Homo sapiens: one gene and its partners. The protein of the gene in region 4 interacts with the protein of the main gene of each other region in a pairwise test. Each region holds a gene or a part of one and is shown on either strand. Other genes may lie near its edges.

The links.
Region 1: the proteins of SGPL1 (region 4) and AQP9 interact in binary tests that used the Homo sapiens proteins (3 or more experiments, as listed by UniProt).
Region 2: the proteins of SGPL1 (region 4) and FA2H interact in binary tests that used the Homo sapiens proteins (3 or more experiments, as listed by UniProt).
Region 3: the proteins of SGPL1 (region 4) and TMEM176A interact in binary tests that used the Homo sapiens proteins (3 or more experiments, as listed by UniProt).

What each region holds. Positions count from the first base shown.
Region 1 is NC_000015.10:58,134,078-58,141,385, reverse strand, and holds the start of AQP9 (aquaporin-9), read right to left. Parts: upstream 3,006-7,308; 5' UTR 2,821-3,005; coding exon 2,710-2,820; intron 1-2,709. UniProt on the Homo sapiens protein: Aquaglyceroporins form homotetrameric transmembrane channels, with each monomer independently mediating glycerol and water transport across the plasma membrane along their osmotic gradient.
Region 2 is NC_000016.10:74,771,800-74,778,928, forward strand, and holds the start of FA2H (fatty acid 2-hydroxylase), read right to left. Parts: upstream 3,022-7,129; 5' UTR 2,957-3,021; coding exon 2,687-2,956; intron 1-2,686. UniProt on the Homo sapiens protein: Catalyzes the hydroxylation of free fatty acids at the C-2 position to produce 2-hydroxy fatty acids, which are building blocks of sphingolipids and glycosphingolipids common in neural tissue and epidermis.
Region 3 is NC_000007.14:150,796,264-150,803,771, reverse strand, and holds the start of TMEM176A (transmembrane protein 176A), read right to left. Parts: upstream 3,004-7,508; 5' UTR 2,944-3,003; exon of another isoform or gene 2,840-2,943; coding exon of another isoform or gene 2,804-2,839; intron 2,780-2,803; exon of another isoform or gene 2,412-2,779; intron 2,237-2,411; coding exon of another isoform or gene 2,222-2,236; coding exon 2,048-2,221; intron 1,558-2,047; coding exon 1,447-1,557; intron 1,058-1,446; coding exon of another isoform or gene 953-1,057; exon of another isoform or gene 373-952; coding exon 316-372; intron 153-315; coding exon 1-152. Other genes in the region: TMEM176B (transmembrane protein 176B), read left to right, coding at 3,548-3,750, 4,154-4,161, 7,198-7,406.
Region 4 is NC_000010.11:70,811,612-70,818,965, reverse strand, and holds the start of SGPL1 (sphingosine-1-phosphate lyase 1), read right to left. Parts: upstream 3,019-7,354; 5' UTR 2,840-3,018; exon of another isoform or gene 2,781-2,839; intron 2,684-2,780; exon of another isoform or gene 2,471-2,683; intron 2,156-2,470; 5' UTR 2,113-2,155; coding exon 2,086-2,112; intron 1-2,085. UniProt on the Homo sapiens protein: Cleaves phosphorylated sphingoid bases (PSBs), such as sphingosine-1-phosphate, into fatty aldehydes and phosphoethanolamine. Elevates stress-induced ceramide production and apoptosis.

The DNA of each region.
Region 1 (7,308 bases), on a different chromosome or scaffold from region 4:
AGTATGTTATCTACTCAAAAGTCCAGCCCTGGAAAGCTGTCCTTCCACCTCAGGAGGAAATACAGCTGCTTGCTGGGTTGTTCACTTCAGCATCTTCAATAAGATGAGCTCTGTATCAAAGAATCCTGAAAAGTTTGAAGAGAGAGGAGAATATATAGAGTAGTAGGAGTGAGCATAGTCCCTGTGAGAAATGACTAGACATGACTAGAGATTCTCTGAAGTTCAGCCCAAGGAAGAGATCAGCCTTTTGCATTGCAAACTTTCCCCCCACACTAGTAAAGGTGAAAGGCCTACGTATCCCAATGACTAAAAGGCCAAATTAGAGCTAGCTTTTTGGCTTATGACTTAATTGTTGTTGGTTTTAGTTGTAGTTTATAAAGAATTTTTCATGGACCTTCTTTTCTCTTAATGCTACCAGTAGGCCTTATCAGTCCTTTATACCAACTGTTCCCAACCTTTTAGCACCAGGGACCACCTGTACCAGTCCGTGGCCCATGTGTTGGGGACCCGTAATTTATACCATGGTGTTAGATTAGTTTGAGATGCTCCCCATAAGAGCAGTTTTTGAAAGGAGGGAAAAAAAATAGAACCAGACTCCCAAGGTTGGCGGAAAAAAAACAATCTCACATATTTGAAAGACTGAGTCCTTTATATCCTCTGCCATCTTTTCGATGTTCCCCTTCCCTTTGCCTTATCAATGTACAAAGCTTTTTACTAGAAAATACAAGGCAAAATGCACATTCTCTAATAAAGCAGAAAATTACTTTGGATAAACTTTCAGCAAAACCATGTAGATTTCTTGGTTTAAAAAAATTGTGTTTGTGCAGGAACTTTTTGTTTATACATCCCCACAAGCTCCAACAAAACTGAAGATGATAATCAAGGTTGCAGATTTTATTAGGGTTCACTTTAGAAAATAAATGTATAGTATAAATGGAAATTAAATATTTCAGGAAATGACTGGCTTTATCCAGAACATACAAGTTTTAATTTTTCAACAGACAATATCAAGATGTTCTTTATTTAGCCCCTACCTTGCATAGTGGGGAAGACACAAGGCCAGTTGAACAGTGAACTGCTGAAAGCAAATTTCACTTTCAACACAGAAAGCACGGGATTATGAAACAGGTTCTTCTTAAGAAATACAGAGGGTTTTAAACTTTTTGGTTGCAAAAAAAAAAAAAAAAAGATGTGTAGTTCATTTCCTCCTCTGTTTTCTGCAGAGCACTAAGAATTGTAACTGAATTTGCTTCACTTTTCTGACTCACTCGTCACTGTGAGGCTGTAATCACTCTGTATTGACAACTGCTTCTTTGGGGCCAGATTGTCAAGTAACATGACAGAGGGGTCTCAGTCTCACTAAGAAAGATTTTCCAGTAAGCAGTGACCGGGAATCATAAGAATCACTGACTTTCATCTTCTCTCTTTTATTTCTTTTATTTTAGTTAGAAATAACTACTTACATAATGTCTTACTACATAATGTCTTGCTACATTATGACAGTGAGTGTGGTCAGAGCAGCCAGGAATGAATGCCAAGGGAAGATGAGGAGTGCAAGAAATTGTCCGTAACTCCCTGAAAATACTGTAACGAATCTGGTCTAATGTGTTTCTCAGAGACCAGAAAACTTATGACTCTCTCTTCACATTCCACTAGTTCAATTTTTTGAGTTCACATTTGTTTCTCATTCTTGGCTTAGCTGATGCATTCCAAGCTTATTCTTCTAAATTATTATGTATTTGCCCCAAGCAAAGAACTTTTAATGCACAGAGTTTATGGGCTATTCTCTATAACTTTAAGGAAAATGAAATTATTTATACCTGGAGTAGGAAATCCTTAAGCAGGATAAAAAAAACCAGTTGAAATCAATAGTTGCCACATGATAATACATTTCTATTCACAAATGGCCTGGTTCCAGGTAAAACTTCAGGATACAGAGAATGCTAGAACGTGCAGCAAAATGAAAGCCCAGACCACTTAAGTAAACTTTCCAGTCTCTTGTTAATAGCTGAGTAAATCTCTGGGCAATCCTCAAGAGGTTCTTAGAAGTCGTCCCTCGTTTATATCTAGAAGGTTCTTGTAATTGTCTTGTAAATCTCCAAAGATATTTAGAGATTACTTTGCTTTAAATAGAGACCAAAAATGACACAAAACTAAAGCTGGACTATTGCCTGGTACACTATTTCTACCTAGTGCAATTTTTAATTTCTTAAAAATCAAGTGATCTGACAGCACAATACTTGTCAAGTACTTGTCATACTGAGATGTTTCTTGCCATCCATATGTATATTTTTGCCAACTATATTTATTGACTATTGATGCTTATTCCAGGTGGCTGAGTCACCCCAATGCTTGGAGGAAGCAAGCAGGGTACAAATCAATTGATCAATGAAAACACTAACGACTGACTTTTAAATCACAAAGCCATTTTAGAGTATAAGTAAATACCTGAAATAAAGAAGGCACTTCACTCACTCCTTCTCTTCCATTCCCATCAACTTTTGTGGGTAAATGCAATAGGTAATTGAAAACTTAATATCACAACCCCTAAATAGTCAAACAGCCTCTAGTAACTTGTTTCTTCCTGGAAAAGATGAATCTGATCCCAATTAACTTAAATAAAACAAACCAAACAAAACTCTCCACTACCAGCCTGGCAGCTAGGGAGGCATTATTGGGTCTGAATGTAGGAAATCAGGAAATACTTACAATCAAGATGAACGTGCCCAAGAACTCAGAGAGGGTTTCTTTCGCTAAGCTGCTCTTCAAGACCAGTCTCTGCTTGAAGCTTTTTCCCTTTTCTGCTCCCTCAGGCTGCATCTTGGGGCTTCTCTGAGGACTCCTGTTTCTACCAATACCTACCTGTTGTGGTCCTCACTTTCACAGCCAGATGAAAATGGACGTTTTGACAATGGCTCACAGATTCCTGGAGATGTCTGGTAAGAGTCTCTGACTGTACAAATGCCGTTCCAATTAGAGGCTGTGGCTTAATCGTCTTCTGGTGGAACTGTCATTCCCTGTTCGCTGCTATTTGTTTGAATCTGCGACTTAGAACCCGAAATCCCCAAAACAATCCCTTTTGTGCCTGACAGATTAATCATTACCTTTATTCTCAAGGTACTTTTTTCTCTGTTGGTTTTTTTCAAGAGATGAGAAAAGAGATGTGCCAGTTGTGTTGCCAAATCACAGTGACGGGCCCTGGTCCAGAAAAGATTTTCATGTTACACAATTGCAGGCTTCTGATTTTTTTTTCTTCTCATTCAGAAGTGGGTGGTTGGGGTGTAGTTTGGAACTGTCAAATCAGGTGTAGATATATCCAATGTTAACATTCTTTTCTGAAAAAGGTTTTTATGCAAAATGAAGAATTTGAAGAAAATATAGATTTATCATCCTAGAAGATTAATCACTCTTGTTTTCTTCTGGTATCATTTCAGTGGCTTCATGATACCACTCTGAGGTTAGTAAGAACCACATAGGCCATCCTAGAGATGGAGAAATTAACATACAGAGAAACCATTGCAAGCTTCACACTGCAAGTCTGTAGGACAGATGGAGTCACCTCTTCGGTTATGAAACTGGGCTTCACTTGCTGAAGATACTTTAGGATCCAAGAATCAGAAAGATGGAGGAGTCACCTTTTTGGTGACTTCTGAAGTTTCTTCTGAAGAAACATTCCAGTTTGGGTTTCTTCTGAAGAAGCATTCCAGTTTGAAAATAGTCACTCTTCTTCATTCACCATGAAATATTTAGACATAATACATAGGAAATAAACAATAGCAGCTTGAAATTCTTTACTGCATGGAGATGACTGAGCCGGAAAGAGATCAATTAGCGTGTATGTCATTCTAATCAAACGAGAAAGGGAGCCAGTACACCTAACCGAGGCTCCTAGGTTATACCCTTTCAATTTGATAAATTGACATCCTTGCTGGCAAGAAACTGTGTTTGGGAGTAGCTCCTTGTCCTGCCAAATATTCAAGCCTTGTTTTTCAAAACTGGCTTATCTGAAGAAATAGAATATAGCATTAGTTTCTAAATAGCAAGGCAGGCCTAGTTTCTGATTACCAATGTGGACTCATGGAATTAGTATCCATGCTGTGTGGTTCCTTCCAGTCCTCCCACAGGGAAGCCAGCTCTGCATCAGGCCCTCCCCTAGCTTTGCAAAAAGGGAGGGAGGAGAGGACATGGAGAAAGCAGCTGGTGAGAGGCCAAAGGCAGAAGGAGACTTCTCATCTGTAGGTGACATTTAGAATTTAGACTTTAAAAAGTTATAACCTGCCTGAGGCCACACTACTGCAGAACCAGGACAAAACCTCAGCACTTTGGCTTTAATTCCTGATGAAGTTATCATAAATACCATTGTCTAGAAGAGTTACCTATGACCACACCATTACCAAGTCCCAGTGGATGGACCAGAGAAACAGGACTTTCTTACTGTGACTACAGCTAATAACATGCAAGAGCGTTCTCTGGTCTTCCCATTCACTCATCTAACAACTATTTACTGCACACTCATTATGTGCCAAGCACTGCACTTAACAAGAGCACATAGGGTTCTTGTCCTTCACAGAGCCTAGAGTCTAGTGAAGCAGACAGATGTAAGTGAAATAATCCCACACACATAAATACAAAATCACAACTGAGATGTATGCTGCAAAGATGGGGGCCATATTTCCATAAGCAAATATAGCAAAAGGATTTGACTTTGTTGGAGAGATCTCTGATGGCTTCTCCAAGGAAGTCATGTGTGGACTGAGATCAGAAAGAAGCATGGGATTAACTACATGAAGTGGGGAAGAAAGTGCATGTACAAAGTCCTTGGTGGCTTTGGGGGTAAGGGGTAGGGGACAGCATGATGCCTCTCAAAGAATGAGAGAAATTTACTGTGGTTGGCCCCAGAGAGAGTGAAGGAGTACAGCATGCAAAATGAGCCCTGAGGTGTGGGCAAGGGTCAGACCTTACTAGGCCTTGTAAGTGGTAGTTAGGGCTAAAAGTGTAAGTCATTAAGGTGGTTTAAGCAGAAATACGACATGATCAGATTAGAGTTTTGAAAAGATCCTCCGAGCTGTGAGGTGGAGAGGGGATTGGAGGGGGCTTGGAATGGTCATAGGCAGATACATTTGGGGGTATTACAGAATTCCAGAATTGGGTGGTAGTTTGACAGTGGAGAAATGGAGGGATCCAAGAGTTCTTTATATCTTAAAATTGGAAGAATTTCATGGATTAGATGTGGGAGATGAGGAAAAGAGACTGAGAAAAGTTGGTTCCTGAGTTCCTAACTTGCTGGGGAAGGTGCTGCTGAGCCCTGGGAGAGGAAATCCTGGAAGAGGACCAGAAGTGCAGTGGAAGATCATTAATTCTGCTTGTGCAAAACTGAGCCTCAGAGGCTTCTGAGCGATGTAAGTTAGGAAGTGATATGGGTCCAGATGAGGAAGGAATGTCTGTGTGCTCATAGTGGTGATAACTGGAGCCTGGAGTAAAGAGGCTCCCTAGGGAGAGAGTTTGAAGAGAACTGAGAGTTTGATATGGAACATTTCATGCTTAGGTAGAGGAGGATGGAATCTTTATTATTTCTGTTTTACTACCTTCAATTGACAGTCACACTTCTCACCTCCATCACCACGAACAGCTCATCATCAAACATAGCTTACTCATACAAAATATTCACTGAACAAAATGTTCCAGCCACCTAACAAAATGTTCAAAAGCATCTTAAGAAGGTAAGCAATGAATAGTATTCCTCCTTTATTCCATCTGGGAGGGAGCCTTTGTCAAAATACCCTGACTCCAAAGTTCTAACTGGAAGCATGAGGAAGCTTTTAAATTTCATTCACTCAGAAAAAGTTTTCATTGAATATGTACCATGTGTCAGGCACAGCATTAAGCAGTGGGAATTTAAAAATGAAAAAACAAAACCAGATCTCTATTATTAAGGAATTAATAGTCTAAGTGACTAAGATGTCTGAATGAATACACCATAGAGTAGAATAGAGTTGTAAGCAAGATACTGAACCAAAATTTCTGCTGTCACCATAGGAACATCTGAGAGCTAACTCTGCATTTGCCAACATGCAGAGGAAAGAATGAGTATGGTGACTGCTGTCAATGGTTCTAAAGCTGATGAGCTTTCCTGGATGCACTGCCATACTGATTCTCCAGGGCTGGCATATGCTGTTCTTTTATTAATAGTTCCCTTGGCTCTGCCCCTTCCTATCTTCTCTTCTCCCCAACATTCTATTCTGTGTTTATCTACTTTTGCCTTGGGTAACCATCTTTGCCTACACTCACGCAATCCCAAGATAGAAGCCTGGTGTTTATAAGTATAACCGCCTCTCACACCCTGACCTCACTTCCCCTACACCTCCTAATTCTAAATTCCAGTCCCTCAAAGCCTTCCTTTCCACCTAATTATTACCTCATGATTACCCACGTTAATGAAGCGCTTCCCAGCATCTCAGGTTCCATTGACCCAGTGATTTTCTTCTACACCCATGTTGCCAAAGCCCAACTCTGGGTATGCCTAACCATCCATTTTTTTTTTCTCAGACTTTCTCTTCCCTGGCTGCTAAATGTTGCTGAAGAAAATCATAAATGTATTGATTAACGCTATTGCAGATAATTGTGATATAGCATCAGCAGTGGCCCCATGTTCTTAGTTAACCTTTTATTTCCAAGTTTCCAGATTTTAGCATGCACTAAAATCAGCTTCCCTCAGAGACTGATTCTGTAGATCTGGGATGGAGCCCAGGAATCTCACAAGCATACTTGATAATTCAGAGCCGATTCTTTGCCCAGCAGCAACCACATACTCTTCTATGCCTCCAGCTCACAGTCCCAACCCTCCCACTCAGATGATTACTTTTTTCTCCAAATCCACTGGGAAAGCATAGGTTTCATTGACTGTAAGTCCTTTTATGCCCTTACTCCTAAAAAAATTGCCTTAGTTTTATATATGTTATCCTCTTTTCCTTTCCTTATTCCTACCGTTTGGCCCATGTTAATGTTCTATTCCAGCCCCTCTGGAACCCAGGCCAATCAACATTCCCTTCACTCTCAGTCTCTTTCCAACACTGGCTTTCTCCCACCACCCCAGGACCAAAACAAACACAGGTCTCTCTAATACTGAAAAACATTCCTCAAAGTTGTTTCACTCCAAATTACCATTTTGTCTGTTAATATCTCCTTCACTTTTTTCTTTTCCACCTGAGGAAGAAATAACCTTTTTCCCATGAGTGTAAAATCATATTACACTGAAAAAAATTAGAAGTATTTAAATTAAAATGTTAAAATTTCTTATAATCCCTGTCG
Region 2 (7,129 bases), on a different chromosome or scaffold from region 4:
GCCACTGCAGTGGCAGCCATGCAGCAGCATCCTGCCTGATCTCCTCACACCCACTTAGGCTGTCTCTGTTCCTCCTTGAAACTGCAGCCAGCGTCCTCTTCTAAAGATGCAAATCTGACCATGAACCCTGCCTGAACCTCTTCCCTGGCTTCCTTTTTTTTTTTTTTTTAAGATGGAGTCTTGCTCTATTGCCCAGGCTGAAGTGCAGTGGCGTGATCTTGGCTCACTGCAACCTCCACCTCCCGGGCTCACCTGGCTTCCCATTTTTGTTAGAGTCAAGTCCCAAATCCTGACCACAGCCTACGAAGCCCCGTGTGATGTGGCCCCGGCCGACTTTTGGCCTCCCCCCACATCCCTGTCTTTGCCCATCAGCCTCTGGCCACGTTGGTTTTATTTGCAGTCTTTTACTATGTCAAGCTCTTCCTGCCAGAGCCTTCACACGTGCTGTTCCCTTTGCCCAAAATATTCTTCCTGCTACATGCCACCTGGCTAAGCCCAGCCTATCAATCAGCTCTCAGTGTCAATGTCGCTTTCTCAAGAAGGCTCTCTATGCTCCTCCCCTCTAGATCCGTACTCTGATACACCATTAATTAAGCAACTATCATGTGATCTGTGTGTTCCCTCTCCTTCCCCATTATCCCATTAGCTCCATGAAGACAGGAACCGAATTCGTTTTGTTCATTGATATCTCCCCACACCCAGCACAGTGCTGTCAACCCATTAAGGAACCAGTTCCATGACTGAATAAATGATGGAGAAATTAGGCAGGATGACCCAATGAAAAGCCACCTGAAACAGTGGGTGCTAAGTCCTTTCAACCAAAGATCTAAGAGTAGTTGCTGGGCTCATCTTGAAAGCAAGAGTTAGAAGCAGGGGACAATTGTTGGTTTTCAGGAGTCCCCCTTATCCACGGTTTCACTTTCCATGGTTTCAGTAACCCACGGTCAACCTGGGTCCAAAAACATAATTAAATGGAAAATTCCAGAAATAATTTATAAGTTTTAAATTACTTTTCAATAGTAGCCAATGCCACATCACCACACCTGTCATTCACCTCACTCCAACCCATCATGTAGGCATCTTATTATCTTTTTTTTTTTGAGGTGAGCTCTCACTCTGTTGCTCAGGCTGGAGTGCAGTGGCATGATCATGGCTCACTGCAGCCTCCACCTCTCAGGTGATCCTCCCACCTTAGCCTCCCAAGTAGCTAGAATTATAGCCACATGCCACCACACCCGGCTAATTTTGGTATTTTTTGTAGACACAAGGTCTCCCTATGTTGCCCAGGCTGGTCTTGAACTCCTGGGCTCGAGCGATCCTCTTACCTCGGCCTCCCAAAGTGCTAGGATTACAGATGTCAGCCACTTTGCCTGGCCTCATGTTATCATCTTACATTATCACAAGAAGAGTGAGTACAGTACTATAAGATGTTTTGAGAGAAAGGGACCACATACAAATAGCTCTTATTACAGTATATTGTTGTAACTATTCTATTATTGTTGTTGTTAATCTCTTCCTATTGTTCTTAATTTATAAATTTAACTTTATCATAGATATGCATATATGGGAAAAAACATAGCATATATAGGATTCGGTACTATCTGTGGTTTTAAGGATCCACTGAGGGTCTTGAAATGTATCCCCTTGGACAAGGGGGAACTACTGTATATCTAAGCATGATGGCCCCATACCAGTCCCAGAGCCAGGCCTGGGGAACATCAAGAGAGTCGCTTTGCCTCTGGCCTGAGCCTACCTGGAATCCTGTGGACTAGGTCTGTCTCCTCCACCCGAAGACTTTTGGGATGGAGCCAGCATTGATTTTGGAGTCAGATACATGTGGCTTTCCCACTATTTAGCTATTTGACCTTAGGCGCATTAATCAGAGCCTCCCTGAGCCTCAGATTCCATATCCTGAAATGGGAATAACAAAACCTGCCCCAGGTTGAGTTAAGGACTTAAATACCATCGGGAGCTGGTACTGCACAGAAGCGTGCAGCTCAGCACACAGTCTGGTCCAAAGTGCTGGTCCCTTTTCCTTGGCAAAACTGGCTCATGCCTTTCATTTCACTCTTTTGGAGTCCCAAGCCAGCGTGTAGGACAAGAATATAAGGGAAGGTCTGAGAGGTTGGAGGACACAGTCCACCCCAGACATGGCCCAGGCAAGGCCAGGGCGGCACCAGGAAACCCAAGCTAGTGAGAAGAGTTACTGATCTGTGCCTCTTTGAAGCAGAAGTGAGGTGGGATGGGGAGGTGGGAACAGGTTGAGCCCATTATCCAAACAGAAACGGAGAGTGGTTGCAAAGAGGGAGAGGCCGATAAGTGAAGAGGAAGGAAAGCCGAGGCGTATGGGGGGCTGGGGACAGAAACGGGAATCCAGGTTGTCGGAGGGCAGGGGCTGCAGAAGGAACACGCTGGAAGGAGGGGTGCTGGGGAAATGGGAGAGCTGGCACGGAGGCGGGCCAGGCGGTAAGGGTGGAAAGGAAGAGCAAGTTCCTGGAGAGAGGAAGGAGGGGTTGGAGGGGACGACAGTGACCTGTTGCCTGGAGAGAAGAGAGGGAAAGCGAGGGAAGGGAGGGCAGAAGCTGTCACCTTGGGTCCTGCTAGAGGGCAAGTGAACGGGGCTCGCCCGGGAGTGGAAGGCTGACGGAGGCCTGGGTTGGGGTGGGGGGCCCCGGCCCGGCTGTACCTGCTGCTCCCCGCGGAGCTCTCCCACGTAGTACTGCTCCAGCCAGCGGCGCGCGTTGGCCGAGTGCCTGTGCGGCGGCCCGTCCAGGTCGGCGCTGATGTCCTGGCCCGCCCTGGCCCGCAGCAGCTGCTCGCCCCCCGGGTGGTGCCGCACGAAGCTGGAGAGGTCGTAGAGGCGGGCCCCGCGGCGGACCCAGCACGCGCCGGCCGCCAGGCGCCGCTGGACCTCGGAGGGCGAGAAGGAGGCGGCGGGGGGCGGAGCGGGGGCCATGGCCGGAGACCGCAGCTCCCAGCGCGCAGCCCGGCGTCTGCTCTGCTGCCACCCTGAGCGCCTCTAACATCCCGGGAGCCCCGCGGCCGTTCCGGGCGGGCCGCCACCGCACCTGCTCATTTGCATACCGCGCTCCCATTGGCCGGCCGGGAGCCCCGGCAGAGCCGCGAGGGGCGGGCCCGGCGCCGGGAGCTGCGCGCCAGGTGGCCGCGGACAGGGAGTGCCGCGCCCGCCAGGTGTGTCCCGCGCGGGAGGAGGGTGGGCGGACACAGGCGGAGCGAGTCTCCCCGTCGCGGGTGGTTGTCTGGGCGGACATCCTCGGTGGCCTGATCGCTGCTGGAATAACTTCAACTGCTTCCACGGAGGAGCTGGCCGCATGGGACCCTCTGGCTCCAGGAGGTGCCCGAGAGAGCGAGAGGCGAATGAGGTGCTCGCCTCGGGTGCAAATATTTGTTTGTTTTTAAAATTTCAGTAGCTTTTGGGGTACCAGTGGTTTTTGGTTACATGGAGGAATTGTATAGTGGTAAGTCCTGAGATTTTAGTCCACCTGTCCCCCGAGTAGTGTACATTATACCCAATGTGTAGGGTTTTGTGTGTGTGTGTGTGTTACACCCCCTCCCATTCTCCCTATTGTCCATTATATCACTCTGTATGCCTTTGCGTCCTCATAGCTTAGTTCCTACTTATGAGTGAGAACATACAGTGTTTGGTTTTCCATTCCTGAATCACTTTCACTTAGAATAATGGCCTCCAGCTCCATGCAAGTTGCTGCAAAAGACTTCATTTCGTTCCTTTTTATGGCTGAGTAGTATTCTATCGTGTATATCAACTACATTTTCTTTATCCACTCATTGGTTGATGGTTATTTAAGTTGGTTCCATATCTTTTCGATTGTGAATTGGGCTGCAAAAAACAAACATTCGTGTGCAAGTGTCTTTTTCATATAATGACTCTTTTCCTTTGGGTAGATACCCAGTGGTGGGATTGCTGGACCGAATGGTGAATCTACTTTTTCTCTCCTCCCCTCCCCTCCCCTCCCCTTCCCTTCCTTTCCCTTCCCTTCCCGTGACAAGGTCTCACTCTGTCACCCAGGCTGGAGAGTAGTGGTGCGATCTTGGTTCACTGCAGCCTCGACCTCCCGGGCTCAAGCAATCCTCTTACCTCAGCCTCCCAAGTAGCTGGCACTACAGGCATGCACCACTACGCCTGGCTAATTTTTGTATTTTTTGTAGAGACGAGGTTTCACCATGCTGCCCAGGATGGTCTCAAACTCCTGGGCTCAAGCGATTTGCCTGCCATGGCCTCCCATAGTGCACTTTTTTTTTTTTTTTTTGAGACAGAGTCTCACTCTGTTGCCCAGGCTGAAGTGCAGTGGCACAATCTCAGCTCACTGCTACCTCCGCCTCCCGGGTTCAAGCGATTCTCCTGCCTCAGCCTCCAGAGTAGCTATGACTATAGGCGCGTGCCACCACGCCCGGCTAATTTTTTTGTATTTTTAGTAGAGACGGGGTTTCACCATGTTGGCCAGGTTGGTCTCGAACTCCTGGCCTCTAGTGATCCTCCCGCCGCAGCCTCCCAAAATGCTGGGATTACAGGCGTGAGCCACCGCGCCCAGCCCCAAAGTGTACTTTTAGTTTGTTAAAGAATCTCTGTACTGTTTTCCAAACAAGTTGTACTAATTTACATTCCCACCAGCAGTGCATAGCATAAGCATCCCCCTTTCACTACATACACGCAGACATCTACTGTTTCTTGACTTTTTAATAATGTTCGAGGGCAAAATTTAATGGGGCACCCCAAAACTCAGTCATCACTATATCTAATACCTGAACGTAATATTTAAAAAATTATATTGTTGGCTGGGTGCGGTAACTCACACCTGTAATCCCAGCACTTTGGGAGGCCGAGGTGGGCGAATCACGAGGTCAAGAGATCGAGACCATCTTGGCCAACATAGTGAAACCCCATCTCTACTAAAAATACAAAAATTAGCTGGCTGTGGAGGCACGCATCTGTAGTCCTAGCTACTTGGGAGGCTGAGGCAGGGGAATCGCTTGAATCTGGGAGTTGGAGGTTGCAGTGAGCCGAGAACGCCCCACCACACTCCAGCCTGGCGAGAAAGAGAGACTCTGTCTCAAAAAAAAAATTATTTTGTTGCACAATGTGAATGTTCTTAATGCCACTGAACTGTACACTGAAAATGGTTGGAATGGTAAATTTATATTATGTATATTTTACCGCAATACAAAATATTTAAGAATGTTTTAAAAAATCACATTGTCAAAAGACAGGGGTGAGGGGTGGGGTTGGGGGCGTGGCATTGGCCACCTGTTTTTGTAAATAAAGTTTTATTGGAACCAGGGCCAGGGATTCCTGAGACAGGGATGTGAAAGTGCAGGGTTAGCTCCTGTTTTTATTTAAAATTTTGATATTTTGTCCATCATGGATTTTTTTGCATTAATCTTGAAGTTTTACAATACTGCATTAAAATATTATTTATCTTGGTTACTTTTTTTTGTTTGTTTTTTGGCATGCCTGTAGATTTTGCTCTCAGGGTTAGTGCCTCACTCCCTCACTCTAATCCTGGGCCCTGGGGAAGGACCTGAGGGGAGAACAGAGAACACTGTCTCCATTACAGAAGGGGAAGTAGGGGCCTACAGGAGTAAAGGCTGGGGGTGATGCTGTGTGGAAAGGAGGACTGAATTTGTTCATCACAGTTTTGTTTAGAACAGGAAAAACTTGGTTGGACATGGTGGCTCATGCCTGTAATCCCAACCCTTTGGGAGGCCAAGGCAGGAGGATCGCTTGAGCCCAGGAGTTCAAGACCAGCCTGGGCAACAAAGCAATACCTCGTCTCTACAAAAAAATTTTTTTTTTAAATTGAGGCCAGGCCGGGCGCGGTGGCTCATGCCTGTAGTCCCAGCACTTTGGGAGGCCGAGGTGGGCGGATCACCTGAGGTCGGGAGTTTGAGACCAGCCTGACCAACATGGAGAAACTCTATCTCTACTAAAAATAAAAAATTAGCCAGGCATGGTGGTGCCTGCCTGTAATCTCAGCTACTCAGGAAGGCTGAGGCAGGAGAATCATTTGAACCCGGGAGGCAGAGGTTGCAGTGAGATTGTGCCATTGCACTCCAGCCTGGGCAACAAGAGCGAAACTCTGTCTCAAAAAAAAAAAAAAAAAAAATTGAGGCCAGGTGCGGTGGCTCACACCTGTAATCCTAGCACTTTGGGAGGCCAAGGCAGGCAGATCCCCTGAGGTCAGGAGTTTGAGACCAGCCTGGCGAACATGGTGAAACCCTGTCTCTACTAAAAATACAAGAAAATTAGTCGGGCGCAGTGGCATGCCCCTGTAGTCCCAGCTACTTAGAAGACTGAGGCTGGAGAATCGCTTGAACCCAGGCGTCAGATGTTGCAGTGAGTGGAGATTGCACCACTGCACTCCAGCCTGTGTGACAGAGCGAGGCTCCATCTCAAAAATAATTGGATAAATAAATAATTTAAAAAATTAGCCAGTTGTAGTGATGCAGGCTTATCGTCCCAGCTACTGGGGAGGCTGAGGCCAAAGGATCTCTTGAGTCCAGGAGTTTGAGGCTGCAGTATCCTATGACTGCACCACTGCACTCCAGCCTGGGCAACAGAGTGAGCTCCATCTCTTAAACAGAAAACAAAAAGCAGAAAAGCCACACCCAGCTTTACTTGCTCAGCCACAGGGGATCCCACTTGAACTCATGATTTGTAATCAAATGCTCCTGGTACAGAGGCTAACCCATCCAGCTGGCTTTGTCTCTTTCAGGAAAGATATTTTAAGGATCATCTCCATTTGTGCCCTTCTGGGGCCAGGCATCTGTGCTGGGCCAGTTCAAGTATGGGAAGCCTGGCCCAGATGCCTCAGGGGTCCCCAGGTCAGAAGAGCCGCCCCTCTTCCCTCTCCCTTCTCTTCGGACTGACCCTCAGGGAGTAGGCGAGAGTTTTGCTGTCTGTGGGTCTATGGAGCACCTGTCCGTCAGGCCTAGAGGCCTCACATCAACAGAGTTGTTGCTTTTCTCAAGCGGTGAATGCATAAGTAGTCACCTTTACCCAACTTCCACACCTACTCTGCTGCAAATCCCGTTCATGTGCCAAAGCAGCCAAGCGCACAGTCGCAGGTGTACTCAGGCACTTCTTGCTGAC
Region 3 (7,508 bases), on a different chromosome or scaffold from region 4:
GTGGGGGCTGGAGTGTTCCAGTCACTCGAGCTGGAGATGCGGCAGGCACTGTTGTAATAAGAGTAGCCATATCGGAAATCTTCATTCCAAAGTTTGAGGGCAGCGATGGCTGTGGAGAAAGCTGCCAGCGTTAGCAGAGTCCTCAGCAGGGCCTGGGGAGGGAGGAGGCAGAGAGAAATCTTTGTGTTTCAGTCTCTCTCAGAGTCCAGTCGGGGGAAAAAAGGGCAAGGCCCAGAGAAGCCTGCAACAGGGCAGGAGATTGGGGTGACCTCCAGCCTGAACCTGGTCCCCTCCCATGCCCTTCCCTGAACTTACCCAGTATGTACCACCCCGTTTCTCGTAAATGAAGGCAGCAGCTCCAGCCAGCACAGCCTGGGGAGAGATTGAGCCAGGAGCAGGCTTAGTACAGGAAATGCAACTCCTCTCCCACGAGAGAGCCTCCATGCAGGCCCTTCCCCAGCACACAGCTTGGGCGGGAGGTTTCATGCTAAGCTTTATTATCCATGGTAAGATAATTGCTGAGAGGGTGGAGCCTGGATCCAACTCCTGAGGCTGCAAAAGGCCCTGCTTTAGTGACACCTAAGAGCTTGTGGTCAAGCCAGGTGTGAGCCCCTCTTCCCTTCTAAACCTTCCTTTTTAAACAACACCAAGTGCTTTATGAAAGTTCTAGGGATGGTGGGATCCTGTGGATAAAAGTCATGGGGTGCTGGAGAAGATCTCAATGAAGGGTGAGTCTATACAGAGTGGGCACTGTTAGGTCTAGAAGCCTGTCCTAACAGTGCCCAATAATCCACTCAGCTGGGCTTGAAGAACAGGAAATCTAGTATGTCCCAGTGGACAGGTGGACCTGAATCCTGTTTGGCTAATTCTGTAATTAAGCTGGGTATTTTGCCACAGGCTGGGTGAAGGTAATTACTCTCGGCTTCTGTCAGTAAATATGAGTGTTTTAGTGCTATTCTGAGAGTGTAGGTACCATGACCAGCCTACCCAGCTCCTGTGCAAACTGCACACACCCATCTGTTGACAACAATTCCTGGGTTTCCATTGTGTACAGGGCCTGTGGAGGACAATGAGAATAACCAGGGGGTGATGCTTCCTGGGGGACCACATACTATCTGGAACGCTCTGCCTTCCCCATCTCAATGCAAGTATCTGGAGATGAGCAGGTCCTTAGATCCTTAGTTGACATTAACTGTTGAAGGCAGGGAGAGGCAGCCAGCCTGGTGGGAACAGCACTGGGAAGGGTATGGGAGAGCAGACAGTGTGAATAGGACATGCCACCACCGCCCTCAGCTGTTTGCTCATCTGAACAGGCAGGGAATGGTCCTAGATAATCAGATCTCTCCGACTGCCAGCATTCTGTGGCGCCATGTTGGAGGAAGGCAATCAGGAGAGCAATGCCCCACCCCTCTCACAGGCAGTCAAGCACTGTCCTGCTCTACTCACCACAGCCCCTGTCCAGATGGCAGCTCCCGAGGTGACGAGGAGGGTGTAGTCGCGGATGTAGAAAAATCCTCCTAGGACTGCACTCAAGATCCCCAGCACGATCTGCATCACCTGAAAGACAAAGGACCCAAGATCCCGGCTCCTAGGTGGACCTGCCACTGCAGGGATTAACCGCTAAAACCCCAAAAAGAGAGGGAGAGGTAGAGAGAGAGAGAAAGAAAGAAGAGAAGAGAAGAGAAGAGAAGAGAAAAGGAGAAGAAAGAGGAGGAGAAGGAGAAAGAAGAAGAGGCAGGAGGAGGAGAAAAGAGAAGGGAAAGGAAGGAGAGGAGAGCCGGCCCATCCTGAGTTTGGCCCAGAGGAAAGGATGGACTCAGGGCTCCACTGATTGGGACTCTGCATGGTCAGTGGCTCCTCCACACCCCTTCAGCCCAGAGCCTCCCCTCCCCAGGCTCTTACTGAGAAGGCCAGAGAATCACATCGCTAAGTAAGAAGACATAACTGGCTCGGTGTCCTGTTCAGAGGGAGGCTGGCAGAGAGTGCTGCTGCGGCTGGAGGTGGGGAGTTCCTCCCGCCGCCCGACGAGGCAGGCCGTCACACTCACCCACGAGGCCACCAGCAGCCGGCTGCTGCCCCTGGCCTGGGTGGCCCGGGGCCGCAGCGCAGAGCAGCAGGTGAGCAGGAGCTTGGCCAGGGCAGACTCCTGGTGGATGTGCACATCGATGTGGGTGTGCTGTGGGGCCTCCGGGGCCATCTCATCACTGTCGGCTGTTCCCATTGTCAGGGACACAGTCTATGAGGAAGGGAGCACCAGAGAGGAACGGCTGTCAGAAGATTTTCGCAGATTTCATTGGAGTTGGGGAGGTCAGGGGCCAGTGGTGGCTCAAAGTCACCCAATGAATGGCTGTCCTGGTCACAGGGCCGCACCCCTGGCCCCTCACGAGGGGAATGTGTGTAGCAGAGGGGGTGCTGACCATGCTGGAACTGCGGCGACTACAGAGCCTGCGGGAACCTCCCCTTTCGCCCAAGATCTGCTCTGTCCCCCTCATCCTCCTCCCAGGGCCCTGGCGTCTGGGTCAAGCAGCGCCCCACACCTCGACCCCTCACCCCCTCCTCCCGGGCTCTTCCTGCGGCCTCCCCTCCACAGTCCGCAGGCTCTGGGACAGGACCGAGTCCTTGGCTGCCTGTGGAGCTCCTGTGCCAGCAGCTGCGCCCCGGCTGCGCTCCGGATACCCCCATCCCCGCCACCGCCGACCTCCCGCTCCACCGACTGCTGCTCACGCCCGACGGGTTCACGCCGCCCCTGCCCCGTGAAGGACCGCGCTGCGGTGCGGAGGTAGGTCAAAAGCCGGGGCCGCACCTGGCTTCCTCTGCAGTCCCCTTCCTGGAGTGTCATCCCTGGGTGGGGGTCCCTCCTACGCTCCTCCAACTGTGCGGAGGCAGCTCGGGGTGCGTGCGGAAGGAGGCCCGGGGGCCGCCGGGAGTGGGGTGCCGCCTCACCTGCGCTCCTCGGGACCTGCGAGCGGGCGGCGGGAGGGCTGGGGCGCTGGCTGGAGAAGTGGGTTGAGAGTTGGAGGGGGAGGCGGGGAGGGGAGGCGGGGGTGGGGCTGAACTTCAGCCCCTCGGGTTCATGACAGGCTGCAGGGCCTGGGGTCCGTCTGGGGTTCTCCTGCTGCGCGAGGGTCACTGGGCTCTGGGGAGCTGGGAGGGTCCGCGGGCGGACGGCCCTGGGAAAGCCCGTGGGGTCGTTCTCGCCTCCAGCCCCGCCCGGCCAGGGCCGGCGTGCAAGTGTGCGCGAGTGGGAGCGCAGGGGGCGCGCGGGGGCTCGGTCTTCTCCCGCCCGGTCCGCTCCTCCGGGCGGAACCCCCTTTGCCGGGCCCCCGGGCCGCAGCTGGTTTCGGGAAACCGCGCAGCCTGGGCGGGGCCGCAGCCCCCACCCGTGCATCTGCCGTCTCCGCCCTCCCGTCGCTCCCCTGCTCGGGGTCAGCTAGTGTCCGCTCTGCTCGGCCGCGGGCTCCCGGAGGACTGCAGGTGAGGCAGGGCCTCCGCGGCCCGGGAGACCCTCTTGCCGCAGGACCCTCTGTCACGAGGAGTCCCCAGGGCCATGCCCCCACCCCGTCCTGTCCACAGGACGTCTTTCTTCCTCCAACCTGGTTTCCAGGAGGACTCACGTAGGAGGGAGGGACAGCTGGGTGCAGGTGTTTCTCCCCAGAAAAACGGCTGGAGAGCGGGAGGAGAGGCCTGGGGCTGGCGCGTCCCGTCCACCTTCTGCCGCCTGCACGCCTGGACCCTGGCTGGAGCCCTACGGTGGGGTGGCTCCTGGGACGGGGCCAGGGAGCGGCGGGGCTGCCGGACGCTTTCCCCAGCCCCGGGGCACGGGAAGAGCTGGACAGAGGAAAGTGTTCGGGGCAGCCGGGAAGAGCCCACCACCTACCAGGCGTCGGGCGGCCCGCAGGGGAATCTCCGTGGTGCCGGCCTGGTTCAGATCCGACTCTTCAGGCGGGGGCGAGGCAGATCTAGGGGTTGGCGTGGGGCGGGGGAAGCGGTGGTCCTGGGGGCCCGGAGGTAGCTGGAACCCGAGGTGCCCTCAGGGCGAGGCCTGGGCCGTCAAGGGAAGGTCTGGCTGGAATCTGGGGCTGGGCTGGAAGCAGTCTGAAGCTCCTTTGTACGTGTGCGGAATTGTCTAACTCCTGTCCTTTCTAACCCCAAGGAGGCCAGGTGGGTGAAAGAGTGAAACTGCTTTGAAAAGTAGGTAGAGTACGAATGGGAGGTGTTATTAGAATTGTTAATAATATTTGATTTAAACTGTGATACTTAGCCAGGATGTCCATTAGAATTGCCTATGCAGGATTTATTTTAGAGCCAGGCAAGCTGATTCTAAAGTGCATGTGAAGAAGTAGTCTAGCAAAAATGGCCATGACAATTCTGAAAGAAAAACCACACGAGGGGATCATGAAACAGCCCAATTAGCATTAAGCTCCATGTTAAAATTGTGGTAATGATGCCTAGCCCATGAGACATGCCAATGGGCAGAATATAAGGACTAGAATAGGCCTACATTCCTAGGGGAACTTCATTTCTGCTCAGGAGAGAATTTTAAATCACTGAGAAAAAGAGGATGTATTTTCCGCAAATGGAACGTATCTTTCAGAAGTTAAACATCTGAATGACAGCAACAGAACTTGGATCCGTGTCTCCCAACGGCGAAGGTTGGTCACCCAGCTCCCAAATTCCAGATGGTCGGCATTTAAAAGTGAAAACTGAAAGCATAAAGGCACTTAGAAGAAAATGTGGAAGATTATTTTATAATCTCGAAACGGGGAAGTCCTTTAAAAGTGTAAGAGCTAGACACCATAAATAGAATGAAATAGAACATGGATTGTATGAATATACAAGCAAGGTCAAAAAATAAACTTCAAATTGTAAAGAAACATTTGAAACTCATATCACAAACGGTAATTTTGTGAATAGATAAAGAACTTCCATAGAAAAAAGCAAAACAAAACAAAACGAAACAAGGACATAGGATGTGAACGGAGAGCTCACAAAAGAAGAAATAAAAATGGCCCTGAACATATGAAAAGACAACCAACCTCACTCATAATAAGAGAACTATGGGCCAGGCGTGGTGGCTCACACCTGTAATTGCAGCACTTTGGGAGGCTGAGGTGGGAGGATTGCTTGAGTCCAGGAGTTTGAGACCACCCTGGGCAACAAAGCAACACCCCATCTCTCTCTCTAAAAAAAGAGAACTGGCCGGGCGCGGTGGCTCACGCCTGTAATCTCAGCACTTTGGGAGGCCGAGGCGGGCGGATCATGAGGTCAGGAGATCGAGACCATCCTGGCTAACACGGTGAAACCCCGTCTCTACTAAAAATACAAAAAATTAGCTGGGCTTGATGGCGGGCGCCTGTAGTTACTCGGGAGGCTGAGGCAGGAGAATGGCGTGAACCCGGGAGGTGGAGCTGGCAGTGAGCCGAGATCGCGCCACCCTAGCCTGGGCGACAGAGCGAGACTCCATCTCAAAAAATGAATAAATAAATAAATACATAATAAAAAAATGAAATAAAAGAAAACCATGGATTAAAAATATATGGAAATCATTACAGAAAGCAGGTCAGTGGTTGCTCATGGCCAGTGGTTGGGGGTATTTTCTGGGGAGGGGCTTTAGGGAATGTATTGCTGTGTAGGAATGTCCTTTATCTTGATTGTAGCTGTAATTGCACAAATGTGTAAATTTGTCAAAACTCGTTGAGATATACATTTAAAATGGGACATTTTTATTACATAAAATTGATTAAAATCAATGCATTTTTCCCCATATAAAAGGAAAAAGATAAAAGAGTTTGCCTCCTGCATGTGAATTGCTACCACCTCCGTGGAGGATAACTGACAATATCTACTAAAATTGCAAATGCGCATTCCTGGTGCCCTGCCAATTCCACATTGTCTGTAATGGAAAAGGATTAGAAATAACCTAAATGTCTGCCAATAGGGAACCACTTAAATAAATTATGAGGAATTCATACTCTCAAAATATATGCAGTTACACAAATGAGTGAAGAAGCTTTTGTGAAAGTTGTCAGAATCATAATCGAGTCACTTGAGTTAAAAAAAAAATCTGAAAATGGAAGGCCCACAAGGCAGGGTTCTCATGCGTAAATAACCTGGGAACAAAAGTCATCACAAAGGACTCTGTAAAATGACAACCTTACACAAAAAAATACTTCTGTGAGGACATCCACCAGCAACTGCCTGTCTAACCCTGGACTTGTGTCACCCTTGTTATTGATCCTTGTAGCCAAGGATGATCACCTCAAAGAGATTATGTAAGTCTCCCCATTTTTCCTTTAAAAACCTTTGTCTTCCTTTACCTCCCTGAACGTGCACATGATTTACTATGGTAAGCATATTCTCATTGCAATGCCCTATTCCAGAATCAATCTCATTTTCTTTTGGAGAGCCTCTCTCTGTTATTTAGGTTGACACTTTTTATGGACTCATGTAGGATTATTCTAAAAACATATGATCGTGTGATCACAGCATCATGCAAATCAGTGTGTATAGTATGCTGCTATTTGTGGGAAAAGGGGGCAGAAATACTTTTTCACACTTTTGTATGCAAAAATGTCATGGTAGGATTTATAAGAGACTGATAATATTACTTTGCATCTGCAAGGCAAATAGGTGGTTGAGGGAAAAAGATGAGCGATAAGGTTTTAAAGGTATATATACCCTTTTGTATCTCTTAACTTTTTTATGTGTAAAATCACTATTGATTTCCAGTGCCATTGATATCTGCACTGGGAAGCCCCTTTGAATTTTGACAAAGACACTGTTTTTTGTTTGTTTGTTTGTTTGTTTTTGTTTTTTTTGAGATGGAGTCTCACTCTGTTGCCCAGGCTGGAGTGCAGTGGCAAGATCTGAGCTCACTGCAACCTCAGCCTCCCAGGTTGAAGTGATTCTCCTGCCTCAGCCTCCTGAGTAGCTGGGACTACAGGTGCACACCACCGTGCGGATTTTTGTATTTTTAGTAGAGAGGGAGTTTTGCCACATTGGCCAGGCTGGTCTTGAACTCCTGACCTCAGGTAATCCACCCACCTCAGCCTCCCAAAGCACTGGGATTACAGGCGTGAGCTATTGTGCCCAGCTGGGATCTTGACAAAGACACTATTTCTCTCCTTTCACCTGTGCTGTGTATTTTTCCCTCGCCTAGTTCCCAGACCTCACTGCTATATGTCTTCTCCCTGGCAGGCAGGATGACGCAAAACACGGTGATTGTGAATGGAGTTGCTATGGCCTCTAGGCCATCCCAGCCCACCCACGTCAACGTCCACATCCACCAGGAGTCAGCTTTGACACAACTGCTGAAAGCTGGAGGTTCTCTGAAGAAGTTTCTTTTTCACCCTGGGGACACTGTGCCTTCCACAGCCAGGATTGGTTATGAGCAGCTGGCTCTAGGGGTAAGACTGGGGTGGTGCGGGGTTGGGGGGCACGTTAACGAGGTGATGAGGTCAATTAAAATATAGAGCCAAATCTTCAAAATTAAAACGTTTTATTTGGGA
Region 4 (7,354 bases):
GCGGTTATTTCTGGGTGATAAATTACTGCACGGGGTAGAGGCGAATGAAGGGGATGTAGGAGATAGGGGAGATTAACAAATCCCCTTTCCTTTTGCTTACTTATAGTTTCCAGTATTTCTAACATAATGGTCTTTGAATAAGAATTTTAAGTTATATAAGGGTATTAATTAAAACTGAAAAATCCATGAAATTTGGGGCAAGATACTATTTTAGATGAACTTTTCATTGGGATCTGCGGATAACCTAAGTATTCATCTATGTCTCTCACATACAACCTAAAATTATCCTAGATCCCTGCCTCAAATCACAATGGATCAAAACTTAGTTTCTCTCTTCTTTAGCCCCCCTGCAGACCTTACAGGTTATGCCACTACGATGTCAGCACCCAGTATAAGGAAATCTCACTACCAGTTTTTGCCAGTTTCCCAGTGACGCCAACCCACCCTCTGGGATAGTGAGATAAAGAGAGAGAAATGAATTGTTTTTAAAGCACTGATTTTGCACTCAGAGAAGTGACAAAAACAAACAAACAAACAAACTTGGCTGGACACGGCGGCTCACGCCTGTAAGTAATCCCAGCACTTTGGGAGACCAAGGCAGGTGGATCACCTGAGGTTAGGAGTTTGAGACCAGCCTGGCTAACACGGCGAAACCCCATCTCTATTAAAAAACAAAAATTACCCAGGCATGGTGGTGTGCACCTATAATCCCAGCTACCCGGGAGGCTGAGGCAGGAGAATCGCTTGAACCCGGGAGGCAAAGGTTGCAATGAGCTGAGATTGTGCCATTGCACTCCAGCCTGGGAGACAAGAGCTAAACTCCATCTCAAAAACAAACAAACAAAACAAAACAAAACGAAACAAAAAAAACTAAACCCGGACACTTTTTCTATACCACCATTTCAAAGCTATAAACTCTCCATAATTCTCACACTAAGAAGTCCATAAGGAATCATAAAAGTCCCAAAAATAAAATGTCATTTTGGTAAACATGCATTTAGCAACGCTATTCTTCCCTGCTCAGTAAAACAGCACAGAAAGATCTCAGGAGGAGAGGAAACAGCTCTAAAGCAGGCATACCTCTCTGTCCAACAAAAGAACTTAAATTCATACTGGTTCAATCCAACAAGCATTTGTTAAGCACATACTATATTCAGAGCACCATGCTAGGTGTTTATTCATCTCTAAACAAAGAAGACATGATTATCTGCCTGTCGAGGAACCATAACTCTAATCTGGAAGACAAACACTCAGATAAACTAGTATATGGCAGACCCTGATAAAACGTAATAATAGAGGTTTCAAAACTGCTCTGGTAGTACGGGAAGGGAGGGATTAAAACTGCAAGAATTATGAAAAAGAAAGCCAGGAGAGGTGACCTGTGCTCCTAGTCCTAGCTACTCCAGAGGCTGAAGCAAGAGGATCACTTGAAGTGGGAGTTCCAGGCTACAGTGAGCTATGATTATGCCTGTAAATAGCCACTGCACTCCGGTCTGAGGAACATAGCAAGACCTTGTCTCATTTAAAAAAAATAATAATAATTTTGAAAAAGATTCTTCAATAATTTAAGTTCTACATATACTGTATTGATGTATTTAATTCAGCTATTTATTCATCCTGATCATTCATCCAAAATAAAAGGTGGTTGGCCAGGCGCGGTGGCTCACGCCTGGAATCCCAGCACTTCGGGAGGCCAAGGCGGGTGGATCACCACAGGTCAGGAGTTCAAGGCCAGCCTGGCCAACATGGAGAACCCCGTCTCTACTAAAAATACAAAAATTAGCCGGGCGTGGTGGCGTGCGCCTGTAATCCCAGCTACTCAGGAGGCTGAGGCAGGAGAATCGCTTGAACCCAGGAGGCAGAGGTGGCGGTGAGCCGAGATCATGCCACTGCACCCCAGTCTGGGCAACAGAGTGAGACTCCGTCTCCAAAAAAACAAAACAAAACAAAACAAAATAAAAGGTGGCAAAACGCTCAGCTACCAAAAGCAAGCATCAGAGGTGAAATCTACACACTGGGATCCTTTGGACTAAAAAAACGGAGACAAATGCCTTGGAACCAGGAGGATGTCTGCAAAAGGCTCACCAACATCAGAAGGTCTGTGCTAGGCATCTTCCTCTTCCAGCCTCCTCTCCGCGCTCCCCTTTTTCAGACTCTGTAAAAGGGAACCAGGTTTGTTTACTTCTAGAGCTTTAAACTGTCTCGCCAGCCCGCCTAGATTCGCCAGAGCAGCCAAGTTATGGTTCTCTCCCTCCTTTGAAGGCTCAGATTTCATTCCCAGATATCACAGTCCACCCCTAGCACCCCAGACCAGCGAATCAAAATCCTGCTGCAACTAGGTTTCCCTCCCACAGCTGATGAAACTAATCCAGACCCAGACTCCCACAAAGCATTCCACCCAGGTGGAAACTAGGGGAAACGCCCCGTCTGCGCGCGATCGGGGTGGGGAGCCCAGCCCAGGCCACCTAACCCGGGCTGAAGGTGCCGAGGCTACCAGGGTCCTGCCTCCTCCGCACTCCCTTCAGAATCAGCACGGCCTCGCTCTCGTTGTCACCCCTCCCGTCGGAGGACCAGCAAATCCTGGCCGCCCATGCCTACCCCGCGGCAGGCGTGGGCTCCAGACCCGCCCCACCGCGGCCCCGCGCCCGCCCGCCGTCCACTTGCTTGGACCTCAGCGGCTGGTGCCCACGCCTTCAGCCCGCCCCCGCCCCCGCCCCGGCCGCAGCCGCCCCGCCGCCTCTGCCCGCCCTCGGCCCACCCGGCCCCTGTCCTCTCCTCACCCCGCGGCGCCTCCGTCCCGACCCTCACCGCCCCCCGGAGCCCGCGGCGGCCCCTCCACCTCCTCACGCCGGAACCAGCTTCCAGTCTCCTTCCCTCGAGCACCCGGCCGGCTCCACCTCCTGCGTCTCCCTCAGCACGCGACGGACTCGCAGGCCGCGAGACCCAGGCTCCCCTGTTGCCGCCGCCGCCGCCGAGATTGGAGGCCCGGCAGCCGCCGGCCTCGCCCCTCCCGGAAATGGCTCCGGGGGCACCGGCCCGGCTCCCGGACCCTGGCGTGCGCGGCCCCGCTGCTACCAGCCGCGCGCACGCCCAGACCCGGGCCCCACGGCCTGTGCGCGCCGCCTACCGGCCAGGCAGCGGGCTGCACCCAGACCCTCCAGTGAATGTCTCAACCAGGCCGTCCTGGGGCGGCTGTGGTATCCCGACGGTCACCAACTTCTCTTCCAAACTGCCTTGGACAAAAAACTTTCTTGTCACATTTGGTCACTTGGAGCCTCCTGAGAGAGTAGGTCTGCAGGGCATTGTACAAACTAATCCAAAACAGCCACAGAGTTGGGTCTCTTTCCTGGGCCAGGGACTTCATTTTTCCATCGAGGTCAGTGGTGCCTGAAGAAAAGCAACAAGGAAACTTATTTAATGGAAATATCATCCTCATCCTCCCCTCCACCACTGCCCCCCCCCACCCCAAAAATAAAATGGAGAGCAGAGGCTACTCTGCCATCACTACTTTCATGAGCAGTGCTGGGAATCACCTTATACACAAGTGCAAGGGCCCACTGGGATCACAAAGGTCGCCTTCATTTCCAGATGAAAAAACTAAGTCTCAGCTGGGTGTAGTGGCTTACATCGGTAATCCCGGCACTTGGGGATGCTGAGGCGGGAGGGTTGTCTGAGCCCAGGAGCTCTAGATCAGCCTGAGCAACATAGTGAGACCCCCAACTCCAAAAAGAAAAAGAAAAAACTAAGTCTCACATAGGTTTCCCATGACTTGTCCAGGTTGTCATAACATTGCTTTAGTGGTAGCAGAAGGCAGTGCAGTTACATGGAACCAACTGGTCAGTGACCTGCATTCAAGATTTTTTTTCAATAGATTTTAAAATGACACCTAGATAGACTCTTGAAATCTCTCAAACAAAAATGACACTAATGAGGGTACCCAATTCCATCCCCTTGGAAAATGTTGCCATGACACTAAAATTAGGGCATCATCACTACCGTCATTATCCACATGTAGTGCTTTCAGGATGAAATGTACTATCACAGCTGCCCTCCTCTGCATACCCCATCGGCACTTCCCACTTCCCCAGCCATAATGGTTAAGGCCCTGAAAGACTATGAACAGGTTATCTTTAGGCCTCCTCACCCCCATTCCGTCAGAACTCCCAGACATTTCTACCATCCAGAGCCCCTGACTCAGGCATGAACACCCCCATACCCTTAGCCCCCTCACTACTATTCCCCAGCAGACATGCATTCTCAGTGTTTGAGGGTCAGAAAATGTTCTGGGGCCTCCTGCCAATGCCTACTCATCAAGAGTTGCTTTAGGGTTTCAGGTATGCCTTCCCATTCTCCATCTCCTACCCTTCTGCTTTAATTCTTCATCAGATCCCCCAGGAACTGCACACCTCCTCTCCATCTCCTTGTTAGTTACCACCCCCACATCCTTTAATCTAGAATCTGTGCACCCAGATGACTAGAGGGCAGGGTCACGTCTGATTCCTCCCTACACCCTAACACACAGTATGCAGTCTGCTCATTCTTCCCAGATGCTCAAACCAATGCAATCATATCGACTGATCCTTGCTTTGCCAAGAACTATGCTAGGCACCTTTACATACAAGCCTTATTTATGGCCTGACTTGCCCAGATCAGGTGACTCTTATCATCCCTCAACCTGTAAACAAGGACACCAAGACCAAAGAAGGAAATGATCCTCCCAAAGACACACAGGCAGGATGGGGTGGAGTTTGTGTGGGAGTTTGGAGGGGAAGCCAAGGGTTCAGAATTTGTAGCGGGGACCTCGAATATCCTTTTTGGTTAATTAGAATCAAAAAATGGTAGGGCTAGAGGGGTCTCCAGCTATTCGCCAGCTCCACCCCAGAGAATACACAAATACACGTGAAGAAACTGAGGTCCAGAGAGAGATGCGACTCCTAGCAGTTCCTGGCAGAGCCCAGCCTAGAACATGGGTCTGGGTTTGCAACTCTCTGAGCCGATGAAGCCCTGTGTGTGTGTGTGTGTGTGTGTGTGTGTGTGTGTGTGTGTGTGTGAGAGAGAGAGAGAGAGAGAAAGAGAGAGAGAAAGACTTCAGACCACCCTGCTCTCCTACCCCACACTCCCTCTGACAGCAGAATGACGTTAGCAGGCACATAGCTGGCTGGTCAGAGGCAGAGGAGGGCTATCTGGAACTTCCATTCTGAAAGTGTGGTTTCCCTGAGAGCAGCATTGGCTTTACCTGAGAGCTTGTTATAAATACAGGTTCTTGGGGCCCCACTCCAGACCTCCTGAATCAGAATCTACAGCTTAACAAGGTCCCCAGATGATCTTAATGCACAAGAAAGTAAAAAGCACTTCCCTAGACACTCTGTTTGCAGAGAAAGCACAATTTTTGTTTGCTTATTTAGAAACATGGTCTCAATAATGTTGCCCAGGCTGGAGTGTAGTGGCTATTTACAGCCATTATCATAGCTCACTACAGCCTCAAACTCCTGGGCTCGAGCGATCCTCCTGTCTCAGCCTCCTGAGTAGCTGTGTCTACAGACACATGGCACTTTGCCCGGATAGAAGGCACGATAGTTGTATTAAGCGTGTGGGTTGTTTGGGATGGCTTAAGGAGGCTGATGAAGAACGTGTTTGTTTGGGGCTGGGGAGGGAACCAATGCTCCCCAGTTGTCCTTTGGTACCATCATGGTGCCTTCCAGGATGACAAAAGATTGTCATTCAGGTGTCAGTGAGGCACTGAAATTCCCGCAGATGACGGAAGGCTTGGGACGGGGGAGGGAGGTGTGGAGCAAGATGGTCTGGGATTTTTTCCCTCTGTGGCTTCTTTAATTTAGGCTAGGAGGATCTCCCTGCAGTGCTTGTGCCTGCCATCATTTAAACAATTCATGCCAGCAAATCTGGTTCTGCTTAAAATGGCAGCCATCCATGGCCAAGTTAATGACAGCCTCCCACTCATGCATGAGTGCACACTCCCACTCTAAAAAGCAGGCGCACACACTCTCCTGCCTCCATTCTTGCTCCTGACACCCCTTGCTCAGCCGGGGACCTTCTTGAGAAGCTCACCTCAGGACAGGGGTGTGGGCAGATCTTAGGAGGGTTGCAGCCTCTAGGCCCATCCTGGAAAGGAATGGCCCACAGGAAACCAACAAACAGTTCCTAGAGCCCAGAATGCCCAAGAAGAGGCAGGAAACCAGCACATAGCTCCAGCAGCAGGCTCAGCTGATCACAGCAGAGCTGGCCACCAGGGGAGGAGAGGCCAAGGGCCAGACAGACATGGGAGCCCCCACAGCAGGGACCAAATGCCCCGACATTGCCAACTGGAGTGAGCAAGGGGCAGCAAGTCACCGAGTTATCATGGGCCCCCTGACCTCACTCAGGTACATACCCCAGTTGCCAGTTTGATCAAAGTCAGAGTGGCCAAGCCCTCAGAGAGCCAAGAGTTATTTCCCAAGGAAACCTCATCTTTCGTAAAGAAGCCCACTGATAGGGTTTGACTCTGTGTCCCCACCCAAATCTCATCTCAAATCATAATTCCCATGTGTCGAGGGAGGGAGGGTGATTGGATCATGGGGGTGGTTTCCCCCATGCTGTTCTCATGGCACTGAGTGATTCTCATGAGATTTGATGGTTTTATGAGTGTCTGGAAGTTCTTCCTTCGTTCTTCTCTCTGCTGCTGCCTTGTGAAGAAGGGGCTTACTTCCCCTTCACCATCCGCCATGATTGTAAGTCTTCTGAGCCCTCCCCAAGCCGTGTGGAACTGTGAGTCAGTTAAACCTCTTTCCTTTATAAATGCCCCAGTCTCAGGGAAGTTCTTAATAGCAGTGTGAAACGGACTAATACACCCACCATTGTTGCTATCCAGGCTGCACAGTCACTCCTAGCAAAACATTAAAAACTGAGAGCAGCTGTTTCTCAAACACTGAATAAATATAAACTTCCTTTGACAAAATAGCTTTGAAGGCAGGGAGACAGGTCTCTACCCAGGAATCATTGTGTGGCCTCAAAATAGCTTTGAAGGCAGGGAGACAGCTTTCTACCCAGGAATCATTGTGTGGCCTCCAGCAAGTTGTTGTAACTGTCCAAGCCTGGGCTTCCTCCTTTGTAAAGCAAGAATTAACAACTACCCTAAGACTGCTGTGGCAATTGTAAGAGATGTATGTGTGTGCCCATCACATATGAGGCCTGATCCACCATAAGCACTCAATAATTATTACTATTATTATTATTATTAATTTATAAAGACAATGCCTCACTATGTTGCCTAGGCTGCTCCTGGGCTCCAGTGATTCTCCCACCTTAGCCTCCCAAAGTGCTGGGATTACAGGTGTGAGCCACCGCGCCCGGCCAAGAA